Regions from separate parts of the Homo sapiens genome. Here region 2 is linked to region 1. Evidence: fine-mapped expression QTL. A gene starts in region 1. The other region holds a variant in brackets. All regions are shown on one strand. Distances are between the middles of the regions. Region 1 holds the start of CNIH1 (cornichon family member 1). Region 2 has its middle 55 kb from the start of CDKN3.

What was found. PIP is the estimated chance that this variant, and not a neighbour inherited with it, causes the effect.
Region 2: its variant is fine-mapped to the expression of CNIH1 in substantia nigra (GTEx, PIP 0.97).

The regions. Positions count from the first base shown.
Region 1 is chr14:54,433,753-54,449,867 of GRCh38, forward strand. CNIH1 (cornichon family member 1) reads right to left here and starts at 7,622. Exons shown (of 5, transcript NM_005776.3): 1 at 7,495-7,622; 2 at 2,617-2,685. The coding sequence starts at 7,575. RefSeq lists silencers at 7,096-7,145, 7,156-7,515, 7,556-7,825 and enhancers at 7,231-8,029, 7,906-7,965.
Region 2 is chr14:54,333,790-54,349,904 of GRCh38, forward strand. No RefSeq gene overlaps it. Among named protein-coding and RNA genes, the nearest start is that of CDKN3, 55 kb to the right of the region's middle. RefSeq lists an enhancer at 5,928-6,449. The variant G/A (reference allele first, on the strand shown) is at 9,222.

The DNA of each region.
Region 1 (16,115 bases):
ATCCTACACTTACAGAATGAAGTATGGAAAGAATGATTTTGAAAGCATGAACCCCTCCCGCTCTTAATATTACTTTAATAAAAGTGTTAATAAAGATAATCTACAACTCTACCAGTTCTAATATGAAACAATGCCATTCCCTCCCTTCTCCTCAAAAGGAGTCCAGAAACATTTACTACCCATCTCTCTTAAAAACCAACCCTCTCCGAGCATTCTTTAATGACAAAATTTCCCCATAAGAGACACAAAAATTATTCAATTTAGGAACCAAGGTTCAAACAGAAACTAGTATCCAGAAAAAAAACCTCAAGCAAATATGGCTGAAATGATAACATTTAAACATGCAAAATATAATATTCTCTTGTTAAAGTTCACAATTTAAAAAATAGTGATATTTGTCTTCCCCCATACTTTGGCAGAACTGTCAAAACAAATTTAAATAGGGAAAACTGTCAGATGCACTGCTATTCAGCCAATTATTGGCACCCTATCCAAAAGGCAACCTGTGCTGCTATAAAAACGTCCTTCAACCTCCTGCAGCATTAGGATGTCCCAAGCACATGTCTCTTCTCAGTGAGAATTTCTTTCCGTTAAGAAAAGCCAGGAATCGCACATTACCTGTTAAAATGAAACCTGTCCCTCCTAAATTTACAATACATTAGGAAAATACAAGAACTTGAGCTTCAAAAATTAGGCTGTCTTGAGTTCAAGTTCTGACTCTATCTTAGCTGTATAACATTCGGCAAAGTGCTTTAACCTGGCAAAGCTTCAGTTTACTCTCCTATTCATGAGATAACAATTTACCTACCTCAGGATTGTCATGAGAATTAAATTTAAAAATTCAGGCAAAGTGCTTACCACAGAGCCTAGCACCCAGGAAAATCCTCATCTGATTTCAAATATTTTTACCTTCATCATCATTTGGTTATTGAAGTAATGAAAAGACAAACAGCACAGAATACTATTAATAAACAGCTATCAAAAGGGGAAATTTCAGTTTCTTCATTTCCTGGTAACAACTTCAACTACTTAGGTTAAGATGTTTTAAAATTAACACTTAATGCTTTCCAAGAGAAGGCAAATTCATCTTCTTATGTCTTGTTTCATAAGAGCAAAGAAACAGCTAATAAGTTAATACTTTTAATTGTACCTACATCAACTCTTACTGTAACAGTTCTCTAAAGACAAACTAGAAATCTCTTCCACCATCCACATTTATCTGGGAAACAATAATAAAGTACCAAACTAACTTTCTAGATGCTTTTCCAAATAAAATCCCTCTAGCACCTAGTGCTAGTACACTAGTATGCTAGACAATTAAAATCTACACAAACTCTCCCCTTCGTTAAGTAATTTTTAAAGCTGAATTACTGTATTTTATTTCTTGAAGACATACCCACTGCTTTCTTATAAACAACCAACCTTTCAATTACTGACCAGTCAGGCAAAATCAAATACACAGGCTAAAAGAGTATCTTCCTAAATGCAGGCAAAAATACAAAAAAACAAACTGGGTACCCTGGTGTGTGCCTGTAATCCCAGCTACCCAGGAGATTGAGGCAGGACGATCACTTGACCCAGGAGTTTGATAAGAGCCTGGGCAATATAGAGACACCCCCATCTCAAAAGAAAATTTAAAAATACATACATATATATTTTTTCAAAAACCCTAAGCACAATGGAGCTACATTATCACTAAATTCATGATGGCTCAGAACTCAGTGTAATTCAGGCCTGTTTTAGAAACAGAAAGTAGATACACACTAGAAATAACCACATAGACATTTGTATACAAATTGTTATCTACAAAATTATGGCACCCTAAGTCCAAAGAATGGCATTGCTGCGAGATCCCAGAGCCCCCAGAACAGAGCTATCCACCTAACAGGCTCTGAATAAACATCAGCTGAAAGAATGACTCATTTATTCCAGAATATGCAAACCAAAGATAAAACTAGATATGGCAGATAAGTCCATACTAAAGATTTCACTCACATACTACCTCACAATAAGTCACAACCCGAGAATCATCTCACCATCTATTAGTCATTTTATGTTAACCAACTTTCAAGTACTACACCAAATAATTTCACATAGAAGTGCCTATGGCTATAACATAAAAAAACGCATACGCATTTAACAGCTTTCCCTACTTGACTGGGCCAGCAAGCATATATTTGCATAAAATATGAAATTTCATGAAATCATAAACCTCAACAGGCATATGAACGAGCACACTGAACAAAACGTTACAAATACAAATGCCCTAACCCTCCCCATGAAATGAATATAGCATTAAAACATTTAACTAAAAAGCAGTACACACCTTTAATGCAATTTTGACTCTTTTAATCTTTTTGACCTTTTCAACTGTCTTTGGCCGACAATGTAAAAAGCAGATTGGAAGAATGTTAGTATGACAGCTGACAAGATCACCAGCAGATTAATAATAGAATAGTCAAGCACGACAGGAAAAAGAAGATTTTTTAAATTCTGCCTACTTCAAAAAGTACAAATATATTATGCTACTCAGAATACTGGCCATTTTCAAATTACTTCAAGTTAAAAACAAACATATTTTTAAAATCTAAAGATAAATCCTATATTATAACTTACGGGATTCAGGGTATTACACTGGTCTATAGGATTCTTGTAATCAGTCTTCAGCTCATCAAATGCTATAATCTAAAATAAAATTAAAACAGTTAGGACCACTCACTTTAATTAAAAGCAGCAACAAACCTGCCCCATCTTCAAATAATTATTAAAGTTAATAAAACAAGAACAAAAGTACACCAAGATCCCAAATACCAATTTACAGTAAACTCATATATGACAAAAAGAACCAGAATGCGATTTAAAGTGAAAACACTCTTATCTCAGTATCACTAAAATTTGGTATTACTGTAATAAATACCTTCAATTTTCAATTTCGTCAATGCCTCTGCTCAAGTTATTTCAACTTATCTCTACTCGAAATAATCTTCTGAGTAGAAAAATAATTTCAACTGTTTATCCAAATTCCTCTTTATCCTAAAAAAAAAACAAACCTTCCTAGGTCAACTTCTTTCTGCAGGCTTTCCTAACTCCTTTGGGCAGAAGTAATTGCCCACATCTCCACACAGCATGGGACTCTATAATGCCATCGATATGGCTTTTCTCACCCTGGAGTGTGGTATTTACACACAGGTCTGTCTGCCCCTCTACACTCTCAGGGAGAAGGACCATTTTTATTTATCTGTGCATGCTCCTCCTCCCTTGGCACAGTGCTCAGTGGGACACTAGAGATGGATTCGAACTCTTCAATGTGTTCCCATTGGTGCCCAAACACATACATTTGTAAGGATGCTTTTGTCCACACTCTGGAGGAATGTGGCTTCAACCTCAAGGGTCACTAGAATGTACATTAAGAGTCAAAATAGGGACTCTGCACCACTTTGTGGCATCATTTCAGGTGACAAAGAAAGAAAACAAAGGCAGCAAGTTGATGGGGGAGCCATTTTAGTTGCTAACACTACTCACCCCAGGGACACACAAACTAAGCTACCCTTCCCTTAATGAGTTAGGAATAGTATCTTTATATGTGAAAGTGTTGCTCAATATTATCAGTAATCAGTAAAGTTACATATTTCCATCTTTTAACATGACTGTTTATTTCCCTGTTAAAATTTAGATTCATAAAAAGACGGTTTTTTTAATTTCTAGAGTTCCATAAAATTCACCCACCTGCCCTAATAAAAACTCCAACCAAACAACAATAGAAGGAAAATAATAAAACATTAGAATGTAATCTCTGAAAGAACAAAGATTGTTGTATTTACTATTATGTCCCAGGGCCTAAAATATAAAATAGTGCCTGGCACATAGTTAAGTGTTCAATAAATATTAACTGGAAGGAGGGGGTGAAAAAAATAGCACTAGGGATTAAAAAAAAAAAATGCAGAACTCACCAGGGGGATTTCCCTTGGCTAATGACACCTAACACAAATGTTAAAAACATACATGTGTAATTAGAAAATACTAATTTCTGATTACTTATGGACGTTATTAGTCTGCTACTTGACGTCAGCCGTGGTATATAACCCCAATGCATTTTAGTAATAAAGCTCAAGACAAGGATGATAATCATAAGTACTTGTCTATAACAAGATCCAACTTAACAGAATACAAAACTTGTCTTTAAAACTGACATTTAATTGGACATTTTCTCCAGGTGACTTCAAGGGTTTTTTTTTTTTTTTTCTTGAGACAGGGTCTTACTCTGTCACCCAGGCTGGAGTGCAGTGGCACAATCTCGGCTCACTGCAACCTCCACCTCCTCGGCTCAAATGATTCTCCTGCCTCAGCCTCCGGAGTAGCTGGGACTACAGGTGCATGCCACCATGCCTGGCTAATTTTTGTAGTTTTTGTAGAGATGGGATTTTACCATGTTGCCCAGGCTGGTCTCAAACTCCTGAGCTCAGGTGATCCACCTGCCTTGGCCTCCCAAAGTGCTGGGATTACAGGAATGAGCCACTGTGCCTGGTCACAGGGATTTTTTAACTATGTTGTTGAATGGGTTTCTCTTTGAGTGCTATAGGCTAGGGTTTTCGAACCTCTTCTGAGAATATTCTTAATGATTTTCAAATCTTTTTGCAGCTATGTGGCTGAGCAAAGACACCCACAAAATTTCCTACAGAAGTATAACAAAAATAAAACAGATAAATCCCTAAAGATGCCCAAGTACACAATTCAGAATACCTTCCAATTTAATACACATCTTTAAGGAATGACTTTTAAGCTTTTAATTTTTCAAACAATCTATGCTCCCGACTCTATTCTCCACAGAGCATCAATGACATGAATTAGGACTAAATTGACAGATATAATCATCAGCATAAAAAACATTCTCTAATACAGTGATTAATGTAAATAAGATTTTTGGAATGTAATTTAAAAATTGTAAAATGAGTCTTCTGAAAGATACTTCAACTACCTGCTAGAGTTTGGTTTAACTCCTCCAAATCTCAGGTTGAAATCTGATCCCCAATGTTGGAGGCGGGATCTAACGGGAGGTGTTTGGGTCATGGGAGCAGATCCCTCATGAATGGTTTGGTGTCATCTTGGAGGGAATAAGTGAGTTCTCCTGCCATTAGGACCCAAGAGAACTGGCTTGTAAACAGCGCCTGGCACCTCCCCCTCTTTTTCCTTTGCTTTCTCTCACTATGGGATCTCCACACACTACTCCCCCACCATGAGTGGAAGCAGGCTGAGACTTTCACCAGATGCCCAGTCTTATAGTCAGCAGAATCCTGAGGTAAATAAACCTCTTTTTTCTTTGTAAATTACTCAGCCTCCCGTATTCCTGTATAGCAACACTATAAACACTATAAAGGAATGGACTAAGATACTACCTAAGATGATAAACATAAGGTTATATGGGTAATAGAAAAATTAAAACTATCTATTTATTTAGAATTGTTTCCAAAAGGATACTAATTCTCTGAATGAAGAAATCCCTAAGCATAAAAGCTCTCCACGAATCTGCGGTATAATTTTTTTTTCATTGTATAACACGACTTAAAATTATTTACTTCACCCAGACACGCATTTGTTTAAGCTGAAATTACCCATTTTTTGAAAGTGCGGTTCAGGTTTTCCTTAAGCCAAACACAACCTGGTTCAAAACGTAAAAATGTGAAAAAGCCTACCCCACCACTCTAAGAATCCCCATCATCCCAGAAAAAAGGAATACCCATCAAGCAGAATGACTTAAAGCTACATCTACAGATGGAATGGAACCACACACTTTCTTTCTTTCTTTTTTTTTGTTTTTTTTTTGAGACGGAGTCTCCGCCCAGGATGGAGTGCAGTGGCGCCATCGCGGCTCACTGCAACCTCTGCCTCCTGGGTTCAAGTGATTCTCCTCCGCCTCAGCCTCCCGAGTAGCTGGGATTACAGGCGCCCACCACCATGCCCGGCTAATTTTTTTGTATTTTTAGTAGAGACGGGGTTTCACCATGTTGGCCAGGCTGGTCTCGAACTCCTGACCTCGTGATCCTCCCGCCTCGGCCTCCCAAAGTGCTGGGATTACAGGAGTGAGCCACCGCGCCCGGCCATGGAACCACACATTTTCATCAGAGGCCTACTAAGGTTGAGCTAGTCTGTATCCCAAATTATCTTAGGTATTGTTCTTCCATCAAAGCAGGGCTGAAGATGCTCTTCAAATTACTGCTCCTACTGACAAGCATTCTGAGGTAGCAGTTATTTCCGACACAGTTAATAGCCTACATAAGTATTCCTGATTACAATAAGCAGTCAGGTCCTAAAATAATTGTAAACATAATCACACTGCTTAGCAAAAAGGAATGGATTTGTGATATGCTTCCACTTTCGAGACTTTTTTGCACAAGACGCTGCTGCTGTTTAATCATTCTGCCCCTCCGTATGTTTCATAGAAATCCTTGTTACTGGCATGATGAAACCTGACTTAAAATCTACGTAAGAGTGAACGCGGTCATTCAAATTAAAAGCAACATTCCAGAAGGCACTGGAATATGGGGAAAAGAGAAGCAAGTATGAGATAAATTTTTAATGAATGATTTCCAGAAGGCTCTCAAGGCTTTTAATTTTGTGCTAAAGCAACAGAAATTCTTATCTCTGTAGAACTATGTCACAGGGAACTTACGACTTTTTCCTTAGAGGGACCAGTAAGGCTGTGCTTCCACCCTGCAATAGTGATGATGATGTGTGTAACAGAAATAAATACTGCCCCAGAAAAGCTTAAGGTTTCTGAGCATCTCAAAATCAAATGAAAACTCCCTCTACTAAATCAAGCAATCCTGAATATAAGGGTGGCTTGGAAAGCTGCCTGTTGAAACTCCAGCGGTCAAAGTATGATTTGGGGGGGAAACGCGCACATGCAATCAACAAAGTAATCAATTGAACTTGCATCAAAGTTCACCAGGAAACAACAATCTGGAAAAAGAGAAAAAAAGTGATTTGATTTGAAGAGCACCGAACAAGTGCTGAAAAGTAGAGTTGGAAATTCACCCTAAGTAGGTTACATTTTGGCCACAGTTCTGTGGAAACCCTAAAAGAAAGTCAATCTGTATTAACAAAAATTCGGAAAACTTCATTCACACTACGGCCGTCCCACCGCGCTGTCGACATCCTCCCCGGGAATGCAGGGCCGCGGGCCGGCAGAGGTCGGTGCGAACGCAGCGCGGAACCGCGGGCGCCCGCCTGGACCGCGGCCGCCCCATCCAGTAGGGGAGGAGTAGCGGTGCGCGCGGCCTGTGCCGAGGCAACGCGGGCGCGTCCACCTGGCGACTGCGCGCCCCGGCTCCTCCAGTACCCGCGGCCCCCAGACCCCTCGCCGCGCGGCCCGTGCCAGCCGGGCCGCATCCCCGACGCGCAAAGCCCCGGCGGCCGTGGCGGCCCGGACCGCGGGCCCGGGGCGAAAAGAGGCTGTGTTGCCGCCTCGCCCTCCTTTCCCCAGCCCCAGCTACTCACGTGCCAAATGGCGAAGAAGATGAGCGCGGCAGTGAGCAGCAGCGCCAGCATGTAGCAGAAGGCCGCGAACGTGAACGCCATGGCTGGGGAGGAGGAGCGGGGAGCGGCGCCGTTGCCAGCGGAGAAAGGCGGCGCAGGGCCCTCTGGGTAAAACCATTCACTTCCCCCGGCCACAGCCGCGACCGCCACCGCTACCGCCGCGGCGCCAGCCCTCTCAGCGCGCCTGCGCACCAGCCCAGCCGCCCCGGCGCCCTCTGATGGCCGGAGTCTGCGTTGCACTGACATTGTCCGCACAGTTGTTGATTGATTTTTCCTTCCTTCTTGCGTTTATTCTTTCAACAAATATTTATTGAATGAATGCCTAGTTTGTTACAGGTACCGCGCTTCTCGCTTCAGATACAAAGATGAATAAGATAGTACCTGCACTGAAAGAACTTAGTATAGTGCCGGAAATGAACACCTAAATAAATAATTACGTTATTATAACCCCGTAAACGGATGTGTGTGGGATGCTCTGAAAGGTCAAAGAAGGACAGCCAGCCCGCCCTGGAGCATTTAGGCAGGATTCCTGCTGTAGGTGTTTCCTAAGTTGGCCTTAGATGATGATAAGTTCTCCAGGCAAAAAGAAGGTAGAACTGGCAGTCCAAGGAAACAGTTCAGAATGAGGAAACGCAACAGAGATGGAAAAAAGAAAAGAAAAATAAAGCTTCGTGTCTCAGGTGAAACCAGCAGCAATTCTGTATTAATGGAACCTAAGTGCAAGACAGTGGTGAGACTTAGAAATGAATTAGCAAGGGATCAGATCATAGAGGGCCTTATAATGCTTCATTACGGAGCTCAGACTTCTTATCCCATAAGCCCAAATTTTTTGCTCACCACACACAACTAGAAAGATTTTTTTCATTGCAACCCAGTGGAATATCATACAGACATCAAGTTATGAAGAGGTGGAAATCTAGTTATAGAGGCAAAGAAATATAGATATGACCAAAACAAAAATTTCACAAAACTGTACTAATGATCCATAAGTACTTTCCCTTCTCTCTTTTGCTACTTGTTTTTAATGCTGGTCTTAACACACAAAATTGATTCAAAATTGATTTAACTTTCCATTACAACCATTTTTAAAAGAAAAAAACTCTATTAACTGATTGCTGCTGATGGAAGAGAAAATCATTGAAGGCTTTTGAGCAAAAGAAGACCATGTTTAGATTTGCATTAAAGATCGTTCACCTAGCAAATTGCGTAGAATAGTTTAGAAGCAGGGTCTGTCCAGTGCTGTGCAATAGAACCTTCTGTGATGGTGAAAATTTTCGATACCTAAACATTGCCCAATACAGTAGCCACTAGCCACATGTGGCCATTGGGCACTTGTAAATTGTCTAGCATGACTGAGGAACTGAACTTTAAATTTCACATCACTTTAAGTAAAATGTGGCTAGTGTATTGGACAGTACAACCTGTACCACCAGGATTATGTGGCACCTGTGTGCAAATTATCAAGTTACTTTTGGCCAGGCACAGCAGCTCATGCCTGTAATCCTAACACTTTGGGAGGCCAAGACAGGAGGATCACTTGAGCTCAGGAATTCAAGACCAGCCTGGACAAGGTAATGAGATCTTGAGAGGTGACAGCGTGCTGGCAGTCCTCACAGCCCTCCCTCACTCTCGGCGCCTCCTCTGCCTGGGCTGCCACTTTGGCGGCACTTGAGGAGCCCTTCAGCCCACCGCTGCACTATGGGAGCCCCTTTCTGGGCTGGCCAAGGCCAGAGCCAGCTCCCTCAGCTTGCAGGGAGGTGTAGAGGAAGAGGCGCGAGGGGTAACCGGGACTGCGCAGGGTGCTTGCGGGCCAGCTGGAGTTCCGGGTTGGCGTGGGATTGGCGGGACCCTCACTCGGAGCAGCCGGCCGCCCCTGCCGGCCCCGGGTGATGAGGGGCTTAGCACCCGGGCCAGTGGCTGCAGAGGGTGTACTGGGTCCCCCAGCAGTGCCAGCCCACCGGCGCTGCACTCGATTTCTCACCGGGCCTTAGCTGCCTTCCCGCGGGGCAGGGCTCGGGACCTGCAGCCCGCCATGCCTGAGCCTCCCACCCCCTCCATGGGCTCCTGTGCAGCCCAAGCCTCCCCAGCGAGCGCCACCCCCTGCTCCATGGCGCCCAGTCCCATCGACCACCCAAGGGCTGAGGAGTGCGGGTGCACGGCGCGGGACTGGCAGGCAGCTCCACCTGCAGCCCCGGTGTGGGATATGCTGGGTGAAGCCAGCTGGGCTCCTGAGTCTCGGGGGGAAGTGGAGAACCTTTATGCCTAGCTCAGGGATTGTAAATATACCAATCAGCACTCTGTATCTAGCTCAAGGTTTGTAAACACACCAATCAGCACCCTGTGTCTAGCTCAGGGTTTGGGAATGCACCAATGTGCACTCTGTATCTAGCTTCTCTGGTGAGGCCTTGGAGAACCTTTATGTCTAGCTCGGGGATTGTAAATACACCAATCAGCACTCTGTATCTAGCTCAAGGTTTGTAAACACACCAATCAGCACCCTGTATCTAGCTCAGGGTTTGTGAGTGCACCAATGGACACTCTGTATCTAGCTACTCTGGTGGGGCCTTAGAGAACCTTTGTGTGGATGCTCTGTATCTAAGTAATCTGGTGGGGACATGGAAAACCTTTGTGTCTAGCTCAGGGATTGTAAACGCACCAATCAGCGCCCTGTCAAAACAGACCACTCGGCTCTACCAATCAGCAGGACATGGGTGGGGCCAGATAAGAGAATAAAAGCAGGCTGCCGGAGCCAGCGGGGACAACCCGCTGAAGTCCAGTTCCATGGTGTGGGAGATTTGTTTTTTCGCTCCTTGCAATAAATCTTGCTACTGCTCTCTCTTTGGTTCCACACTGATTTTATGAGCTGTCACACTCACCACAAAGGTCTGCAGCTTCATTCCTGAACCCAGCAAGACCACGAGCCCACAGGGAGAAACGAACAATTCCAGACGCACCGCCTTAACAGCTGTAACGCTGCGAAGGTCTGTAGCTTCACTTCTGAGCCAGCGAGACCACGAACCACCAGGAGGGAAAAAACTCCGAACGCTTCCGAACATCAGAAGGAACAAACGCCAGACGCGCCATCTTAAGAGCTGTAACACTCACCACGAGGGTCCGTGGCTTCATTCTTGAAGTCAGACCAAGAACCCACCAATTCCAGGCACAATCTCATCTCTATTTCTTTTTTAAAATAATAAAATCCAATAACATTTTTTGTAAAGTTACTTTCTGCAGATGGACAGAGGCCCACCCCAGAGTGTAGGAACACAAGCTATACTTCAGCCCCACCAACCCTGGTCGTGCACCTATGTGCAGTGCACAAACTGCCCAACTGTGCACAATGACCCTGATTAGAGGAGTGTTAGATTGGAAATCGGGTCCCACGGCAATGGTCCAAGCAAAAGTTGCTATGGATCTGAACTAGAGCAGTGGAAGGTGGGAAGGAAAGGGGTAAACATGCTTGATAGTAGTTGGGAGACAAGCTCAGCTGAACTTGATTAACTGGATGCCCTGGTGAAAGCGAAGAAGGAGGCAAATGATATTTAATTCAGTACTTAAGGCCACGGGCACGGCAGAACGCAGCATCAGGCAATATTTATGCAAGAGAACTCACAATCTAATGAAAGGCAGATGCAGCTTTCTGGGCTCGGGAGAGAGAGTTTGCAGGGAACTACTCAAGCCAAACCATGAAATCGAACCCCCTTTTTCCAGATGAATCCCATCTACAACTTGGGAAATGATGTTTCATCACCAGATACCAAGAAATCCTACCTTTTGGCAACAAGTTTTTCTCCGGCTTCACTTGAAATGTGTGTTTTCCTTCTCTGCTGACTAGGCTAGCACCTTATCTCATAGAATGAAACTGTCTCCCAGGCACCCACCCTTAATTAGAAGGGGCTACCCCTATTTCACCTGAGGAGAAAGGAAATTTGTAAGAGAAATTTTGCCTGCCTCAACCCCTACAGCGGTTACATAAAACCCAGGTTCCCCACCAACTTTCTTCAAGGGTAGCATTTTAGGTATTTCAACAAAGGTTTGTTGAGCACCTGTTCTATGCCAGGTGGAGTGCTGACTGATTCACACAGTTATATAAGCTGCAGTAGGATGAAGCCCCCTTCACATATTACCAGAGCACACAGGTAAACTTTAGGCTTGTGCTGTCTAATACAGGAGCCACTAATCATGTGACTATTTAAATTTAAATTAAGCTGGGCAAGGTAGAACACACCTGCAATTCCAACACTTCAGGAAGCTGAGGCACAAGGATTGCTTGAGGCCATGGGGTTGGAGGCTGCAGTGAGCCATGGTTGCGCCACTGCACCCCAGCCTGGGTGACAGAATGAAACCTTGTCTCCAAAAAAAATTTTTAATTAAAAAATAAAAACAAAATTTAAAATTCAGTTCCTCAGCTACGCTAGCCATATTTCCAGCGCTCATATTTCCAGTATTCAATAGCCTCATGTGGCCACTATATTAGACAGCATAGATATAGGATACCTCCAACATAGAAAGTTCTACTGGGCAGCAGTACTTTAGACAATATTAAGCAGCTATAATCTGTGAGAGAATACACCCTTTTGAAAGAGGATAAAGAGCTAGTTGGATCAACCAACCATAGACAAGGTAGTGAGGAAAATAATGAGTTTACTTGACATTTTGGAGGACCATTATAGACAGTGAGAAATCTATACTCTCTGTGTTCAAACAATTCCTAGTATTCTTTGGAATTTGCGTTAATTCTTTTAGCCCATGGGAGTACTTTTGCAGTAAATACTGAATTAAGTTCCTGCTTTGACTTGCATGTATGAATGGGGCTGGATAATATTTCAAAGAAGGATTAATTTATATGCTTGTTCTCTCTCTCTCCCTCCTTCTTTCCCCTCCTCCTTCCCTCAAATTCCTTTGTTCAAATTCTTTCCATCAATTTACCATCACTGCCCCCACTAGCCATGTTCCCAATCTGGACAGCTAGACACAAGTCAGCTGCTTGGAGCCCTGGAAAACAAAGCCCGCAAATACAAAGCATCTAGTCTAAGAAAAACTTCAGATACACAGAAAAAGTTCAGATACACATCTGAGAAATTTTCCAGCACCCTCCCCAACCCCCAACTAGATAAAGCTGGTATTGAGGAAGGGAAGGGGGAGGCGCTGAGCAGTTAGGAGAACGTGACCTCAAGAAACTTGCAAGGCTCTAAGGAAACAAGCACCACCTTGCCAAACTCCAGGGAGTTGCTTGGCAGCTCAGCTCGGGGTTTCTGCCAATTGACAGCAAGCCATACTTCACCACTGATCATCCAGGTGGGAGTGAGGCTTGGCACTCTGCCCAGCACTCCTCCAGTGCCAAGGGCAGGGCAGGTGGGGGCGTAGGATGCTCAGAGACATGGTGGTAACATAAAAGGGAAAGCTCTGCATTGGTGTAAATTTATCCTCAACCAACTAACTAGTGAGGACTCCCACAAAGGGAGAATAATAGGAGAACATCTCATCCCAGTTACAAATGCCATATGCAATCCACTATGCTTTCGGATGATCTGGGCCCTTGCCTTGAATAATGAGGCACTTCCAAGAGGAAAGAACCCTGGGCACAGAAGACTATAGGTCATCAGTCCCCAGTCTTCCAGAAGATGTTTGTGTAATTGGGGAAGAAGCAATTTCACCTGGTAATTAGTGGTGGTTGTGGGTGGGCTATGGATCTAGACATGTGACTCAGACATAAGACTTGGAAAGAATAGTTATGAAGCTGGGGAAAATGGGATGCGTAACCGAAAGTGTTGGTTGCTCCCAAACCCACTCCCACTTCTTTCTTGTTGGCAGAGCTCAGAGTTTGTTCAAGGCTTTATGCCCCCTATGCCACATACTCAGAAGAGAAGCCTTTCCCAGGATTCTCTTTTTTTTTTTTTTTTTTTTGAGAAAAGGTAGCTCTGCCCCTCCAGAACAATGTGTGATTCTCAGTTATTTTCTGTATGTGGCAGAGCTGACAATGTGTTCATGTTTTTTTCTGCTCACTATGTACCTTTCCAAAACCTTGGGTTACGGCAGCATGCAAGTAGAGAGCTTCAGGCTGCCCAGCAGGATGTAGTTTCTCAATATTGGTGGCTGTGTCATCCATTCTGCCCTTTGCACTGGGAGTGCCTGTTACACAACCATGATGAAGGGAGTTAATGTACAGAAATGACTTAACAATTTCATATGTGCAAAAAAAGTCACTTTGTTTTGTTTTGTTTTTGTTTTTGGAGACAGTCTCGCTCTATTCCCCAGGCTGGAGTGCAGTGGCACGATCTCTGCTCACTGCAACCTCCGCCTCCCACGTTCAAGCAATTCTCCCGCCTCAGCCTCCTGAGTAGCTGGGATTTCAGGCACCCGCCACCATGCCCGGTTAATTTATTTATTTATTTATTTACTGAGACGGAGTCTCACTCTGTCCCCCAGGCTGGAGTACAGTGGTGTGATCTTGGCTCACTGCAACCTCCGCCTCCCAGGTTCAAGCAATTCTCCTGCCTCGGCCTCCCGAGTAGCTGGGATTACAGGTGCATGGCATCAGGCCTGGCTAATTTTATTGTATTTTTAGTAGAGACAGGGTTTCACCATGCTGGCTAGGCTGGTCTTGAACTCCTGACCTCAGGTGATCCACCTGCCTCAGCCTCCTGAAGTGCTGGGATTACAGGCGTGAGCCACCACGCCAGGGCTATTGTTCTTAATTTGTATGTGTCTTTCATAAGCCGCATAGTTTAAAGATGGTGAAATGCACAGATCTTAAGTGTATAATTCAAGGAGTTTCAATACACATATACACCTACGTAACCTCCCTCCTAAAGACAGAGAACATTTCCATCACCCCACAAAGTTCTCTCATGACCTACCCCCTAGGCAACAATTGTTCTGCTTTCTAGTACCATGGATGAGTTTTACGGGTCCTTCAACTTCACTAAATGGAATCATATGATATGTATTCTTGGTGTCTGCTTTGTTTTGGCTCAGCATAATCTTTTGGGGTTTTCTCTTCAAAATTCATCCATATTGCTGCATGTATCAGCAGTTCATTCACTTTTTAAAAATCAACTTTATTAAGGTATAATTTACAGAAAATAATATTTACCCATTTTAAGGGCACAGTCAATGAGTGTATGGAAAATTATACACTCACCCACCCACAATCAAAATGTTCAACATTTACAATACCCAAAAAATTTCCACCATGGTGCTTCCTAACCCACAGCCAAGGCAACCACTCATCTGCTTTCTGGCATTATAGATTAGATTGGTCTTTTCTAGACCATCATATCATTGAAATTATATAGTATGTACTCTTGTCTGGCTTCTTTCATTCAGCATATTTCTGAAATTCACCCATCTTGTGTTTTCACAGGGTTTTTTTTCATTGCTCTGTAACATTCCACTGTATGAATATATCACAATTTGTTTATCTGTTCTCCTATTTATGGACATCTGGGCTATTTTTAATCTGGAGCTATTATAGACAAATCTGTAACATACATTCTTGTACATGTCTTTTTCTGAATATGTATTTTCTTTTCTCTTGGGCAGATACATAGGAGCGAAACTGCTGGGTTATGGCAAAGGTGCTATATTCTTTATTATGTTTAAGTAACTTTATTCCAACTCCATTTCCCTTTCCAGTGGATTAGTGAAAAATTCTGTCTCAGGCATTATTGGTGGTCTCCCTTCGGAGAGTCATACTAGTGTCCTGGAAATGTATGTGATCACTGTAGCAGAACGGACAGATATTAGAATCTTTGCCAAGGTTGGGAACTCCGGTACCTCCTGGCACCCCAGGGTTGTCCTCTCTATGATGCCACTGCCTCCCCACAGCCTACAGAACAGGGGACGGATCCTTACTGCCTGCAGGACTCACAGATCTCTCTCTCTGATCCCTTCCCAGTTTAGGAAATTAGCTGCTCCCTCCTCTCTCCTAGACCCCCAAAAGCCTTCACTCACCATCCTCCCACTCTGGGACACCTGGGAAATTCTCTTCAGTGCAATGAGGGCTTTCACAGGAGGCAAGAAGAGCTGTTGATCAGATGGCTTCTTCTTTCTGTCCTTCCTGCAAAAATTCCCAAGGCAAGGAAGCCTAAAGGGATTCATCACTGTCAAAGTGTGGAGGGAGAGAGGAACACAAGGGGAAAACACCAATAATTAGTTCAAGAAATGATTTAGCCACCTTTTAAGTACCAGGGAGTACTCAATCTTATTTTTGGTAGTTTTGCACATTTGATTTCCTGAAGTTGTAAACTGAATGTCCTCTTTGTTGAATGAAAGAAGTTTTGAAATCTTTGAAAGAAACTAAATGATTCTATGGGACATATTGCTCTCTAATTTCCTTTATTGAAGATTTTACCATTTGATGTGTGAGTGGGTTAGTCAGGCTCATTGGGATTGCAAGGAAAAGAGTCATGCCCAGGTTTTATCGTTCTACGGAGGTAGACCATAAGGACACACTCAGAAGTCGAGGAGCTTAGGAAGGGATTGCAGCCTTCGCAAATAGCCTTTTAAAAGACTCTGGAATGCCAGTGACCCAGAACCTGAGAGCCTCTGAGTGACTAGCATGTGTTGTCCCTCATTCC
Region 2 (16,115 bases), 100 kb before region 1:
CACAAAACTTAGAGACCGCCCACCACTGGATTCATAATTCAAACACGTCTTGGAAAGTGTATTGTTTGCCATGTTGCATAGATCCCCATGGATTAGTGCTGAATCGTGCCTGTCATTATTACAAGAACCGGCTTCAGCCAAACTATAAATTGTTGTTGCTTCTTAAATAATATCACATATTAGCCTACCAACGTAAACTCTCCAAAATACAATAGATGTCAAGAATGGAAGAGTTTCTAATTTTTTTCTAGCCTTCCCAGAAGGAAAATGTCCAAAAACTCCTTGATATAAAATTTGTCAAATTTAAAAGGAAAGGACAACTTTTATATCAGATCACATAAGAGTGTATGGGCTACTTCAGAAAATTAAATTTTCATATTATTCAAACACTAATTTTTTCAATGTTTCAACATGCCATTTGGCAGCTTTATATATCTGTGTAGCACCCTAGGAAAGCTTGCAAAAGGAGATCATAAGACAATTATTGGATATTGTTACCTTTAAAAATTCCTACAAAAGATTTAGGAAAGAAGTTCAAATTTGTAATTTAAAAATTGGTATATAATTATGTGCACATTTCATTGGTCTTTGTAAATATTTTCTTTACCATATAGATATTTTAAAGTTGAATTAATTTCTATGAATAAAGCCTAACTGTGGGCTCCAGGACTGTTGAGCTTTACCATCTTGATTGTGGACCAAAGCAATGTAATATACAAAGGCTACGGTAGTAATACCAGGAATGCCACATTTACCATGAAGTTCAAAATCAAATACCAAACTCAAACCACTGATGGTAAAAATAAAATTACCTAGACTTCTGATACTCTTTCTGTTGTGATAGCTATGGCTTCCAAGGAGTGTTGCTGAAATCCTCCCTTGTATAAGCCTGAATTAAAATGACATTAAATATCTTTCAACTGTCAAAATGTAGAGAATTTTTACATTTACACATATACTAATCACACTACAAAATGCAGGTTTGGGCTTACTGTTGGCTTAAGTCATTTTTTGACGTTACATGGGGAAAAGTTGAATTTTCCATCTAGTTTATCTCAGGTGAAGTACTAGATTATATCACTTCCATGCTTAACAAATTCCCTTCACCCTAACACATATTAAACTACTCTCCAATTTTCTATGAAGCATGGTCTTAATCAGGAATTCCTTCTCGTATATAAGATCATAATAACATAATTGGAAAATATTAAGGTACATTTTTCCTATTTCTAATCAAATGAGTTCAATGAAAATTAAATATATTAGATGACTTATAAAATATCCTATGCACAAAAGGAATGCATTCTTTAAGAAACATTTTGTAGGAATCTACTCTGCATTACTGAGATAATTAAGACAGGATCCCTGCTCTCAAGGAATTGAGAGACCAGCAGGGTGGGGAGTGTGGTGTGAAAACAAATGACCACAATGTCCTATGACAGCCACAGAGGGACTTCATATAACTGGCAGAGTTTAGAGGTGGCAAGGCAAAGCAGGAGGTGATAACTCTGCCTGTGCCTCCTTTTTCTTTTTTAATTACTAATACCTCATCACCCCATGAAATAGCCACATAATGAATTGACTGAAATCCAAATTATTTTCATGCAAAAAACCTTTCTGTTTACCTAGGACAAGATAGAAATAATAAATATTCATGGTGTTTACAAGTATGGAGTCTCTAAACAAGCTGAAGTGAATCATCTTTTAGAAGAATATAACTTCTGGAAGGTAGCATAAAAATTCTACTCCTTTTATTCTTTAAAATGATGTATACGTTGGGCATTTATTTTAGATATATGAAAACTATGTTCATGCTAAACCTGTACATGAATACTCATAGCAGCTTTATTCATAATAGCCCAAAACTGGAAACAACATAAATGTCTTTCAATGGGTAAATGATTAAACAAACTGTGGTACATTAATACCATGGAATATGACTCAGCAATAAAAAGGAGCAGACTATTGATAGGCATAATAACTGGAATGACTATCCAGGGATTATGCTGAGTCCAAAAACAAAAAAGCTAATCCTGAAAGATTACATAGTGTATGATTTCATTTATAAAACATTTGTGAAGTGACAAAATTTTAGGAATGGAGGACAGATTAGTAGTGGCCAGGGGTTAAGGAAAGGTGAGGGCATGGGCAGGATAGAGGTGGGTGTGGCTATAGAAGAGCAATGTGAAGGATCCTTGCAGTTATGGAACTGTTCAGGGTCTAGAAGTAGTGGTGAAACATGAACACACATGACAAGATTGTACAGAACTAAGCACATGAACACATATGCATGCACATATGCACACACACAGGTGAGCACAAATAAAACCGGGGAAGTCCGAACAAGATCAGTGGATTGTATTATTGTTAATACCCTGGTTATGATATTATACTATAGTTTTTTGCAAAATGCTACCACTGAGGGAAACTGGCAAAGATTATGTGGTATCTCTCTCAATATGATTTGGCTGTGTCCCCACACAAATCTCTAATCGTACTTCCCTTAATTCCCATGTTTCATGGGAGGGACCCCATGGGAGGTAATTGAATCATGACAGTAGGTCTTTCCTGTGCTGTTCTCGTGATAGTGAATACATCTCATGATATCTGATGGTTTTATAAAGGGGAGTCCCCTGCACAAATTCTCTTTGCCAGCCACCATGTAAGACATCTTTTTGTTCTTCCTTCATCTCCCACCATGATTGTGAGGCCTCCCTAGCCATGTGGAACCGTGAACCAATTAAACCTCTTTCCTTTATAAATTACCCAGTCTTGGGTATGTCTCTACTAGCAGCATGAAAATGGACTAATACATCTCTGTACTATTTCTTATAACTGCTTGTAAATCTAAAACTATCTCATTAAAACTTTAATTAAAAATATCTTAAGGCTGGGTGCAGGGACTCATGCCTGTAATCTCAGCACTTCAGGAGGCCAAGGCAGGAGGATCACTTGAGCCCAGGAGTTTGAGAACAGCCTGGGAAACATTTGAGATCATGTCTCCACAAAATATATTTTTTTTAAATATAACTGGGTGTGGTGGTGCATGCCTGTTGGCCCAACTACTTGGGAGGCTAAGGTGGAGGATCACTTGAGCCGTGATCGTGCCACTGCACTCCAGCCTGGGCGACAGTGAGACCCTGCCTTAAAAAAGAGAAAAATTAAAATTTTAAATTAAAAGTTATATGTGTGTGATATATTATTAAATTATATAGGCACAATGTGAGAGACTTCACTAGCATGGTACAATGTTAACATAAAAAGAAGAATGTCAGCTGTGATCCATCTATCTAGTCTTCTCAAAACTCCTAGCTCTGAGCTGGATTAGTCAAGGATAAAAGGACCTACCTTATAGGTCTTACCAACTATGTCTGAATACTGGTATTAATAGTAAGTCTGACTTTGATTTTTTAAGCAGCTTCTGAGGGACTATTCCTCATTCATGAACTTTGCTGGAGGGCAATGAGGAAGGTGAATTTAACTTTCAATCCATATTGATAGCCAGTATAATAGACAAAAGAATCCTCATTAACTAATTCACTACCTGGTACACTGCAGCTTTCAGTTTTTAAAATGACACTAAAACTAAGCCGCTGCAGGATATAAAGGCAACAATTGAACTAAAGTGACCTGCATCTAGAAATATGTTAATTACCTGATGCTGAAAACACGGAAGGGATTAGAGGGATTCCGAAGCGTTTGCTGAAACCTTGCATCGAGCCGAGTCCACGAGGGAGCTGAGCTCCTGACCACATTCTGACACCAGCAAAGGGCCGCTCTCTCTCTTACCCTTAGGCTCTTCAGGATCTAAAGCACTTTTGATAAAGATTGTTCCTATGATCAAGGCATTGATTATGCCTGTGTCTTTCAGCACAGGTAGAAATGTATTTCAGATAAGACAATTCCGCGTTTGAAAAGTGATCCACAGTCTTTCAGGTGAAAGACATCTCTGCAGAAACACTCTTTAGATTAAAGCCCCCTAAGAAGCAGAAAAGCTTTTAACATAGGGAGCCCCTTATTCACCATAAGTCCATGAAAAATGATGCTGTGCTGACCCTTTATTGACAAAACCAAAATGAGGTAAGCTTGTCTATGAACTGAAGGAAGAAAGATGGGACCAAAAAATGCTGTGAATAAAAGCCTATAATTCCAGCCTTCCCACCACAGCCTGTGTCACGAAGGTCCTTTGTTCATACGTAGTGTATACAAAGAAGAGGGAAAGCACAGTTTAAAACCAGAAGTTGATTAATTGGCTTTGGGAGCTTCACTCAACCTGAACTTGTTTCCTGAGCATCAAAATAGAAATCATGATTCCTCCCTTACCAAATTCACAGACTGTTAGGAGAATTCAATGAGAAAATATATTCAAAGGCTTTAAATTTTGAATCCACTGTACAAAGATAAAGGTTACTATTAATAGTCTAAAGGGGAGACGTATATTATTAAAAAATCAAGAGAGTACTCCCTAATTTGCATCCTGAAGTGTGCTTCTAAATCAAAACCCTACCTGAAGATTTGTTGATAAGGAGAAAAAAATGCAGGAAGAATATGTGTTTAATTGTTAAATCAGTTTTCTTTGAGAAAACTCATGATTTACCTAGAATTCTACTGAGTATGGTAGGTGATAGGAGAAAAAAAAAACTAGGATAATCATGAAATAATTTTGTCTAATGAGAGTCAATAGTCAAAGTGAGATTTCTGAAAGAATACCTCTATAATTCGTTGATCAACTGGTCAGTTTTCGTGTGACTGTATGGAAACCCCGCCATTGTTTGTTTGGTTGTTCTGTTGTGTTGTGTTGTGTTTGCATTATGCTGTTAGGTTTCGAGGACTGATGGTCCCATTTCACAAGTGAGAAAGGTGGAGACCAAAGGGAATCAAGGCTCACCAGCTTAGTACATACAGGCTGATTTCACATAATTAAAGTCAACACTCCTGCTTAAAGGAAACACCCGACAAGCAAGGTGCATCCATGAGCAGCCCGTGATCTTTGCCAGATTCTGAAAAGAGGCATATAGAAAAGCGCTTCTTTAGCTCAATAGGATTCCTTGCAAATTCAGGACAAACCTTCAGATCTGCCCAATGTCTTGGATGCACACGGTGGCTAAGCAACACTGCCTTCCAGTGGCAACAACATGTCTTAAGAAATCAAAAACCAGAGTAGGTTATGGTATTTCACCTTGGTAGTGCCTGTTTGTCCTTAAGGTCAAGGAAACACCGAAAGAGTATTTTCAAACCTTCAGTGTAGGCACTAATTTTAAATTTACATATTAATAATCTTTCTTAGCACTTGTTGAAAATGTTCAGAGCACCTTCCTCCCTTTAGTAGATGGTAATCCCACTCAGAGCAATTACGTTATTCAAATAACATCACAGCATAACTCTGTGGACTAAATTGAGTGCAGTAATACTGTATTTCATCATCAAAAGCATCACCAGTAGCCAGTGGTTCTGGATATAACAAAATCAAGCTGATGTCTGGCAAAGTGGTTGTTCAAAGATGTTTATGAACTTAAAGAATGTCCAATTTTTTCCTCACTAAAATCAGTCTACTCATTCCTTTCTCATATTTCTCTTAAATTCTCCAAAACACAGAATTGAAGATATTCAGTCCAGGCACAGCAGCTCACACCCATAATCCCAGCACTTTGGGAGGCCGAGACAGGAGGGTCACTTGAGGCCAGAGTTCAAAACCAGCCTAAGAAACTCTGTCTCTGCAAAAAAAATAATAATAATAATGATAAATAGCCAGTCATGGTGGCATGCACCTGTAGTCCCAGCAACTTGGGAGACTGAGGCAGGAGGATTACTGGAGCCCAGGAGTTTGAGGCTGTAGTGAGCTATGATCACACCACTGCACTGCAGCCTGGGTGACAGAGCAAGATCAAAAAAAAAAAAAAAAAGATAATCTGAGAAAGATTTATTGTGTGGCACTTTTTTAGTCCATGCTAACTAGGAAATGTCATTTCCACTTTGTCTCTTAGCCCAAAAATATCTTCTCTAATTATCCCCCACCCTGAATCCTCCATTCCCGCTGGCCTGTCTGAAACTTCACAGTGAGTTGATGGAATTTGTCCTCGTCTTGTTATCTATGACTTAACTGTCACCTTCCCTGTCTGTCTCATGGCAGGGCTTCTGTGTTTTGGGATCCACATCTTAAGTGCTACCATTATTTAGCTCAGCTCTTCCTGAGCTGCTGTTGCTACATAGATAGCTCCAGAATTTACATTTCTAAGGGGTCTGAGCTAGTTATACCAAAAGGCCTGCCCAGTTGGGGGTAGTCAGAAGAGTGATGCCAACACTGGAAAGATCTCCCATATCTGAGGGTATCACAGCACTCCTTGAAAGTTTTCTCACTGATAATCCCAACATCCTTGAGAAGAACTGAATAGCCTCATCTAGCAACTGGAGGGGGAAACTGAGACATACAGAAGTTTCATAAGTGTCTCAACAGGGGATTGGTCAAAATGCAATAAATCATTTTGCAGCATAAAATGCAACCATTAAAATAATGATTCGGATAAATATTTATTGAGGTAGAAAGATGGCTACAATACCATTAAAGAGACAAAAAAAAAACAGGTCACCAGACTTAATGCACCACGTGATTGTCTAGTAAATGTGTGTGTTTGCACACACTCATGCACAGAAGCACCACTGATCTAAAGCTACCCACATACAATCCCTATTAGTCCTACCAATAGCCATTCAGTTATTCTCAAACAGAAAACAAACAAACAAACAAACAAAAAACCCTAAGTAAACTGAGTTATTGGGTTTTTTTAAATAAAAAAAGCTTTGAAAACAAGTTCTCTAGCCCTAGTGGTGTGCTGGTAAATGTTTCACAACTAGTTCGCTAGGGAAAAAAGCTCTGATTTGTAGCTTCTGCCAACTTCTATACTGTAAACACCCTCAACAGGATTAATTTCAAACTCCCAAATTGATGTTACCAAACATAGTGTTGGGAAGAGATGCTCACAATAGGCTCAACTACCCTTGAATGTGGGCCAGCTTCAGTGACCCACTGCCTTGCTCCCACATTCAAACAAAGCATAATGTTGTAGGCCCCTCTTACATAAAATATACCACAGAATACTGTATATGTTTTAGGTGGCTTTTCTTTTTTATTGTCAATCTGTATTTTCTACCTCTTCAAAAAAGACTGTATGTTTTCTGTTTACTTAAATTTAAAAAGAAACTGTTTCTTTTATTACCTTGAGGTGGAGAAGGTCATTGTAACTATGACACAAAACCCAGAAGCCATAGATAAATTCGATAAATTCAACTACATAAAACTAAAGCCTTTTACATGGTGAAAAAGCCTTTAAAAGCAAAGTGAAAACAAATGACAAACTGCAAAAAAAAAAAAAAAAAGTGCAACCTGTTTTTCAGAAACACCATCTACTCTCACCAACATATAATCACTTTGCAACTGACAACCTGATAGACAAATAAGCAAGTATTTGAATAGACATTCAAAAAGAAAGCAAAAAAGAGATGATTCTTAAAGAATAGGTCCCCCATTCCCATAAAAGGAAAAATGCTATGTAAAATTTACATGGAGATGCCATTTGTTTAACCTCTCAGATTGGTAAAGATTCAGAAATTTTGAATGCACATTCTGCGAGTTAGGGCTGTGTTGGGAGTTTAAATTGGGACAAACTCCATGGAGAGTGTGGCCATCTGAATAATGACCCCACAAAGATGTCCACATGCTACTCCCTGTAACCTGTGACTATATTACCTTACATGGCAAAAGGAACTTTGCATAAGTGATTAAAGTTGCAGATCTAAAAATGGAGAGTGTGTCCTGGATTATCCAGGTGAGCCCAATATCATCATAATGCTCTTTACAAAAGTGGGGCAGGAGTGTCAGAGCCAGCAGAGCTGTGATAACAGAAGCAGTGGCCAGAGAAAGAGAGATTTGCAGATGCCACACAGCCAGCCTTAAAGATGGAGGAAGAGATCGCAAGCCAAGGAATGCAGGTAGCTTCAAGAATCTGGAAAAGGCAAGGAAATGGATTCTCCCCTAGAGCCTCCAGAAGGAGCACAGCCCTGCCACATCTTGGTTTGAGGACTTTAGGCCTCCAGAATTGTAAGATAATAATTTTGTGCTGTTTAAAACCACTGCATTTGTGGTAATTTGTTGTAGCAGCTATGGGAAACTAACATGGAGAACAACTTGGCAAACTACAAATGTATGCATGTACTCTGGCCCAACAGCTCCGTATCTAGGAATTTAACCTAAGGCATTCACATAAATACAAATAATGCATGTACTGCATTGCTGTGTGTAACAGCAAACAATTGGAATCCACATAAATGTTCATCAAAAGGAAGCTGATTAAATGATGGGGCTGGGCACAGTGGCCCATACCTATAATCCCAGCACTTTGGGAGGCCAAGGTGGGCAGATTGCTTGAGCCCAGGAGTTCAAGACCAGCCTGGCCAACATAGCAAAACCTCACCTCTACAAAAAATACAAAAATTAGCCAGGGGTGGTGGCACATGCCAGTAGTCCCCGCTACTGGGGAGGCTGAGGTGGGAGGATTACCTGAGCCTAGAAAGTCGAGGCTACAGTGAGCTGAGATCACGCCACTGCATTCCAGCCTGGGTGATAGAGCCAGACCCTGTCTCAAATAAATAAATAAATAATGATATGACCACACAATGCAGCCATTAAAAAAATAATAAGTTTTTTATGCTGTGGTATGAGAAGATCTCCAAGATATTGGAGGTGAAGAAAAGAAGACGCTTTTACTGCAATGAGCACAGTGGGTCCAATATGCTGACAGCTGTGTAGAAATCGGGAAGAGGGAGGATATATACTTATTTGTGTATCTATGCATAAATATCTCTAGAAGGAAAAATAAGAAACTAATAGTATGTGTTGCCTACAAGAGAAGGAACTGGATGGCTGAACAAGAAAAGGGAAAGGGAGACTTCTTACTGTATACCTTTCATGTTTTATTGAAATCTCTGTAAGTAATATGAATAGATTACCCATTCAAAAATGTAAATAAAAACAAAAAGATTACAAACTAAACAAGAAAGAGATTATGTAACTTGGCCACCCACCCAGCCAGTAAAGACACCATGATCACCAGTGGGCCTTTACAGAACCTTTCATTGTTTTTGAGGTTGGCTGTGCCATGAATTCCAATCATCTAGAACCACAGGAGTGAATGCAGGGTGTGGCCTAAGGAGCAGGGTGAGAGCGC[G/A]ATGTGGTAGTCTGATGGGATGTGGATGAAGGTCTGTGGTTAGCTAAAGCAGAGTTAACCTTACATTGTCTCTAAGTCAGGGCAGGAATTCTTCCTAAGTCCCTTCCGAGACCCTGTCCAGCCACAGAAACTCTATGAGCTGGGTTGCCAGATTCAAAAATGAAACTACAGGATGACCAGTTACATTTGAATTCCAGATAAACAAAAATAATTTGAAAGCATTTGCTGTTTATCTGAAATTCAAATATAACTGGGCATCCTGTATTTTATTCAGCACCTCTACGTGTAAGGAGCCCCATGGCCTGGGGAGAGAGGCAGTGCAGCACACGAAGGCCAGCATGCAAGGCCAATGGGTCACAGCCTCCATGTCACAGCTACCGAAACTGTCCCTTACAGAGACTCTGAACACGTCCTTCTGACAGGTAGGAATAGAGAGAGGAGGGCTGCGTGGTAAAGTCACCGGCCGACAACAAAGTTACAGGGCTCCAAGTTAAAGTCAGTCTCTCAGCTCATTTCTGGCCCTGGAGCTTCTCCTGAAGGTGCTGTACGGAATGCTCTAGAAGAAGTTTGGAATGGGGGTGGGGCATGTCAGGCAACCCAGAGAAATGTTCTCCCAGCCCAGGTAATAAACGTACCCCTTTCCCCAAAGTACCGTTAAAGATGTTTAAAAAAAAATCTTAAAGAAAAAAAAAAAAAACCCTTTAAGCTGACCTCCTGCCAAAGTACACATCAATTATACAGCTTCAGTCAGGCGGATGCTCGAGGAAAGGGGATCATGTTACACCCAGCTGGGCACTTTGTAGTTAGCACAAATGTAATATAAAGCGCAGCAGAGTTCATCAAGTGTCTGTCTGGATTTTCAGTTTTCATTAGTGCTATAATTAAAACCACATTTTCAGCTCTATTACCTGTAACAAGAAAGGAATGAGAAATGAGCTTGTCAAGGTCAGGCTTTTCCAGCTATTTATACTGAGGATCTGCAGGCCACAAGTTGTTGCATTTGGTGTAAACCAGAGCGACCGGCCAAATGTCGCACTCCAATCCATCCTGTGTGGCTTGAAAGGCACGCTCATGAGGTCATTTCCTTTGAGTGGCCACTGGGTCGCAGATGTCCACACGGCACCAAGGACCGGGAAAGATGGGTGATCAGGTAAATCCACCCTGGGCCATGGAGGGGTTTTCTCTCCCATTATGATCAAATTGGTTTCACCTCCTACAACAGCCCCCAAAGGCAGTTCTCAGACACTCGTGTTGAGGGCAGAAATCCTAAAGTCTAAAGACCATCCCCTTCCAACCTTGATGTGAGGTTGTGCAGGAGAGGGCTGGATGGGAAGGTACATTTTAAACCTCCCCTGTTCAACAACACACACACACACACACACACACACACACACACACACACACACACTTCACAGTCCTCACTCTAGGCCGCAGATCCTTTCAGCCTGAACTTCCAGGCAGATATAGAACCCAGCCACTTCTCCCCAACACGCTGGTCCCTGGTACCACCATCTCTCCCCTGGATTCCAGGAAGAGTCTCCCTGATTCTGCCCGGCTCTCCCCTCCACCCTCCCACACACACCCCACCGTCTGTCCCAGCAGAGCAGCCAGACCGTGTCACTCCTCCACACAAACCCCTCCACTGGCTTCCGGATCTCTCAGATTAGAAGCCAGGCCTCACAGTGGTGCTGGGGCCCCACTCCCTCTGGCCTCCTATTGGTCCTGGTCTTCTCTCACTGCACTTCCCCCCATGCTCCTCCTCCCCACTCTGTCCCAGGCCGTCTGGCCTCTGGGGTCCTCAGACACAGCAGCCACAGTCCTTCCTCAGAGGCTTTGCACTTGCTGTGCCGTCTGCCCGGAGTTCCCTTCCTCCTGTTATCCTCATGACTTGCTCTTCACTCAAAAGGCACCTTTTATACAGGGAGGCCTTCCCTGACCACCCTACATCACAGTACAAGCCACCAGCACCCCTAACCCCTACCCCCCTTAACCCCCACCCCACTGACCACGGCATTCCCCATTTCCTCTCTCACCTTTATTTTTCCTCATGGCACTTATCACTATCTGGTCTACAACATACTACTTTACTTCTTTATTTTCTTTAGATGTCTGTCTCTTCTCACTCCCAGAATGTAAATTTCTTGAGGACAGAGATTTTTGTCTGTTCACTGCTGTATCCCCACTACTTAGAAGAGCCCTGGCATGTAATAAACAGTCAGCAGGTATTTGTTGAATGGATGAATACAATCCAGAGACGGCTCAAGCTAGCACCAAGTGGGCCTTCTGTGGGTGAATAATCACTTACTCCCTGAGATCCACCCAGTGAGAAAGTGCAAAGACCATCTGCTCTTCTACCCACCAACCCAAAGGTGGGTCTCTGACAAGTGCTTGGTCTCCGGGCAAACTCAAGATGGCTGAGACACATCTTTCTCCACCAGAACCACCCTTGGAGAGCCGACTGGTCATCCCTTACAGTAGATGAGATCCAGACTCCCCTCACCTTGTAGGAGGTAGAATGCCCTCCCAACAACACTGCCCTCCTTGCCTTCCAGCCTAGATCCTAGGTGAACTGGACCTGAGCACTGAGTACCTCACCTTGATGGTTATATCAACTTGGCTGGGCCACAGAGCCCAGATATGTGGTCAAACATTATTCTGGATGTTTCTGTGAAAGTGGTTTTGGATGAGATTTACATTAAATGAGTGGACTTTGAGTAAAGCAGAATGCCCTCCATAATATGGGTGGGCCTCATTCAATCAGCTGAAGGCCTAAATGGAACAAAAGACTGACCTTTCCTGAGCAAGTATAAATCCTGCAGCAGACAGCCTTCAGACTTGAACCACAGCACTGGCTCTTCCCAGGTTATCTAGCCTACTGGTCCACCCTGTAAATTTGGGACTTCCAGCTTCTGTAATCACATAAGCCAATTCTTCAAAAATCAATCTCTTTAAATATATATACACATATATATACACACATATATATACATATATATGAATATATATACATATATACACATATATACATATATACACACACATATACATATATACACATATATACATATATACACATATATATACATATATATACACATATATATATATACATATATATACACATATATATATAAAACATATCATGTATTAGTTATATTTCTCCAGAGAACTCTGACTAATACACATGGCTAAGCTGTTGAGATGTAGTTCTCCTGGGAGTCAACCCTCCTGCAGGAAACCAAGTTCTTCCAAGGGCCATCTGCTCTGGAAGCATGAGCTTCCATCTCATGCCTCTTCCTTTCATCCATGCGCAAAGACTTATACAGCCCCCTGGCATTCCCAGGACACCTTGCTGGTCACTTCCCAAACTAAAGGGCAGAAAAGAATCCCATATAACAAAAACTGTTGCTCAGCTGCTATACTAGGAACTCAAGGAAACATTTCTTTGTCTATGATGTCATCGTAAACAATCTTACCAGGAGCAATAATATTCATATGCCGCATGCAAACATCACACCGTCACTTCGTGCTAACACTTGACTGAAGTCTGAGAGGCTGAAGAAAGAGCAGAATAGTTAAGAGCATGAGCCCTGGAGGTCTAACTGCTGGGACTCCAGTCTCCACTCTGCCACAAACTAGCTGAGTAAAATGTGCCAATTCCCTTAACCTCAATTCTCTCATCTTTAAAATGGGATGCAATAATTATACCTATTTCACAGGACTGTAATAAAACCAAGTGGAAAAAATACAAGTGAAGCACATATCCCTGTGCCTGACATACGGCCCATGCTCTGTAAAGGTTACTGGTATTTATTGCTGCAGCAAGAAGCCCAGGCCTTAAAGAGTCTTCTACAAATGCACGCAGTACTCTGAAGAAGGTGATTAAATCAGTTATGACTCTGTGGGTTGCAAGTGAAAAGCAGAAAATCCTTCAAAAGATATAGAGCCCTCAAGAACTCTTGGAGGGCATGCTACCACAGACGAGTCTCTTCCACAGTAGCCCCAGAAGTGGTTGCACCACCACATAGATTGGATCCTATGGTGAAAGGCTGGGCTCACTTTAAGGCTGGGCAGACTGAATTGTGAAGAAACTCTGCGACTTATTCATAGATTGTGAGAATAAATGGTAAACAAGTAAATGAGCAAATACATCCATGCCAGGAAGGAAACAAACAGGGTGCTTTAACATTTAAAAAGAAGTGGGTGTGTCATACCCAGCACAGGCAATTCCATACAGACAAGACGGTAGATGAGTGGATGCCAGAGGCTGGGAGGAATGCGAGGTGGGCCGTGACTTCTTCATGGTATGAGGTTTCTTTTGGGGACAATGGAAATGTTCTGAAGTTAGATAGTGGTGATGGCCGTATAATATTGTGAATATACCGAAAACCATTGAATCGTACACTTTTAAATGGTGAATGTGGTGTTTTGTGAAATCTTATGTGAATTATATCACAATTAAATTTTTAATTAAAAAAGAAAAGCTGGCTGGGGCCGGGCCTATTTTAGATGAGGTAGTCAAAAAAGTTCCCTCCAAGGGGTTTCTATGACCAGAGGACTGAGAAATGGGAAGGAGCCAGCCTTTGGAAGATGCACGGAAGAGCTCACTGTGCAGATGGAAGAGCAAATGCAGATGCCACAGAGTGTGCCCCGCTTGGCAAGGTCCATGTGCTGTCCCAGATTCGGCCCCTGGGAAGGAAGAGAGAAAGAGAGCTTGAAGTGTAGGAAGAAGCTATATCCTAGAAGGCCTTGGTAGGGCACAGTAAGAAGTGGGGAGTTCATGCTAAATGAAATTGAAACCCACAGAAGGCTTTTCCGCAAAGGAGTGCCCACCCCACTTGCCATTTTTGGAAGATCGCTCCCAGCTCCCAGCACGCAAAGCACCCATTACCAAGTGGCAGGACCAACACAAGGTATGAGACATTGATGAGATTCATTCTCATTAGTTGGAAGCTTCTGCACTTTCAACAAAACTGTAACCAGGGGCTACGAATTAGATGATGAGCTTATTCTTAAGAAGACATGTTATAAAAGGTAATATGAAACAATATGGATTTCTTGTCTATTCCAAAAGGCACCTTCTCTCTTTCCCCATAAAATACTTGGTAATAAAAGGATACTCTGTCACCTCCCAGCTTCCTGGAGTGACAATGGCAATGCTGTCATTATTAAGTCAAGAGCGCCCTCTACAGTTATGAGTCTAGATTACAGCTTACTATTAGCCTCGAACAATGTCTACTTTTGTGAAAAATTACCATCCCCTCAGCTCATGCCATCCATGATAAGCTAGTCCCACCAACTCTTTCCTGAAAACTGAAGGAAAATATTCAAAGGAAGTGACATTGGCAGCTTTCTTGGATGACTGAAATGTCAACACAAATGTGTCGGCTCTTTGGAGTAACAGTCTCCATAGGCCAAAAGGAGGATGGTCGGGTGTATGTGTGTGTGTACAATATACATCTATCTACTCACTGCTAATCAATATTTGATCTCATTATGTAACTGGAAAAAGAGAACATGTGTTTGATCACTTTGTGATTATCAAAATACTTGATATCAAGTCGGTGAAAAGTACTTCAAAAATGTAGAAGTTTATTATCTTGCCATAAAATAATAGAACAAAGAGGCAAGGGACTGGCTTCCATTGGCCCAGTGACAGCAGCAGGAGGCTAGGAGAAGCTCAACCAACAGCTGAGCAGTAGTATGGACGGGTTGAAAAAGCAATTGATATTTGGGAGGAAGGCTTTGACCAAAAAAGTGGGGAGATGGATGGAACCATGAAAATCGCATGAAAAAGTGCGAGAAGCTTTTTTAAAAATTCCCCAGGAGAGGGATTTTAAAAAGAATACCCAGAGAGAGGCGCCTGTGAGCAGCTGGAGAGGACAGGGAGGACTATTTGTCTAGGAAATTAGAGCTGTTAGGCAGAGCTGAACTGCCTAGAGAATGGGAAATCATAATTTGTGAAACGCTTTTATTGCACCCCGCCATGGTGGATTCCTTGTCCCAAATATTCTTACGCAAAATTTATTCGGGAAGGAGAAAGAAAGGGCATGCGAGTTCAGAACCTGTCTCACGCCTCTAAAACTTCCAGGCCACCTTCAGTACAAAGAATGGGGGGAATGTCCGGGCGAGCCACGGGAGGCGTTGGGGAGAGGGGAAAACGGATTCCTTCCTGCCGTTCTGCTTCCACTGATTAATACAGCCATTAAAAAATGAAATCTGTTCCTTAGACAAAATATGGTGAAACATTCCTGCGCGCTCCATCCTTGAAACAGATTTCAGTATTGGCCTGTCTTCTCAGTGTTTGTTTTGGTTCCTTCAGCCCACGCTGGAGTCCATGGGTTTTTTCCTTCACTCATCATCTCGCCTCCTGCTGCTTCAGCCGAGAATGAAGTAATAATTCAGCAAGCTGTTCAGGACTTCCCATCAGCCCAACTGCACCGCGCCGTGTTTTGAGGGCTCAGGCATCCTTGAACTCCACGGCAGAGCAAGCCGCGGGAAGGAACTCACTCATGTTGGCTCCCTTGCCTCAATTAAGGCAGTTTAGGAAGCAAAGTGAGAGAAGCACTTTAAAAAGCACAAGAATATCTCCTCGTGGGTCCTCACTTGCATGTTCTTACGAAGCCGGATTGTTCGTAGCCTACTCTGCAATTTCAGAGTGGTGAGTGGCTCCAAAGCAGCTTACAAGGAAACATAACTGTCACAGAGGCTAAGAGATTGCTTAAAAATAAATTACTGATTCTCTTTTCCTGAGAGCAACCTGCTGTGACCTTTGGAAGGCTTCTTTTGGGTCTTCAATTTTGCATCTGCCTGAGCTAAAAGGGATTGCCAGAGTCCCACTGTTTGGTTTATGACCCAGCTCATCCCTGTCCCTTGGAGGACGTGAGGACATGA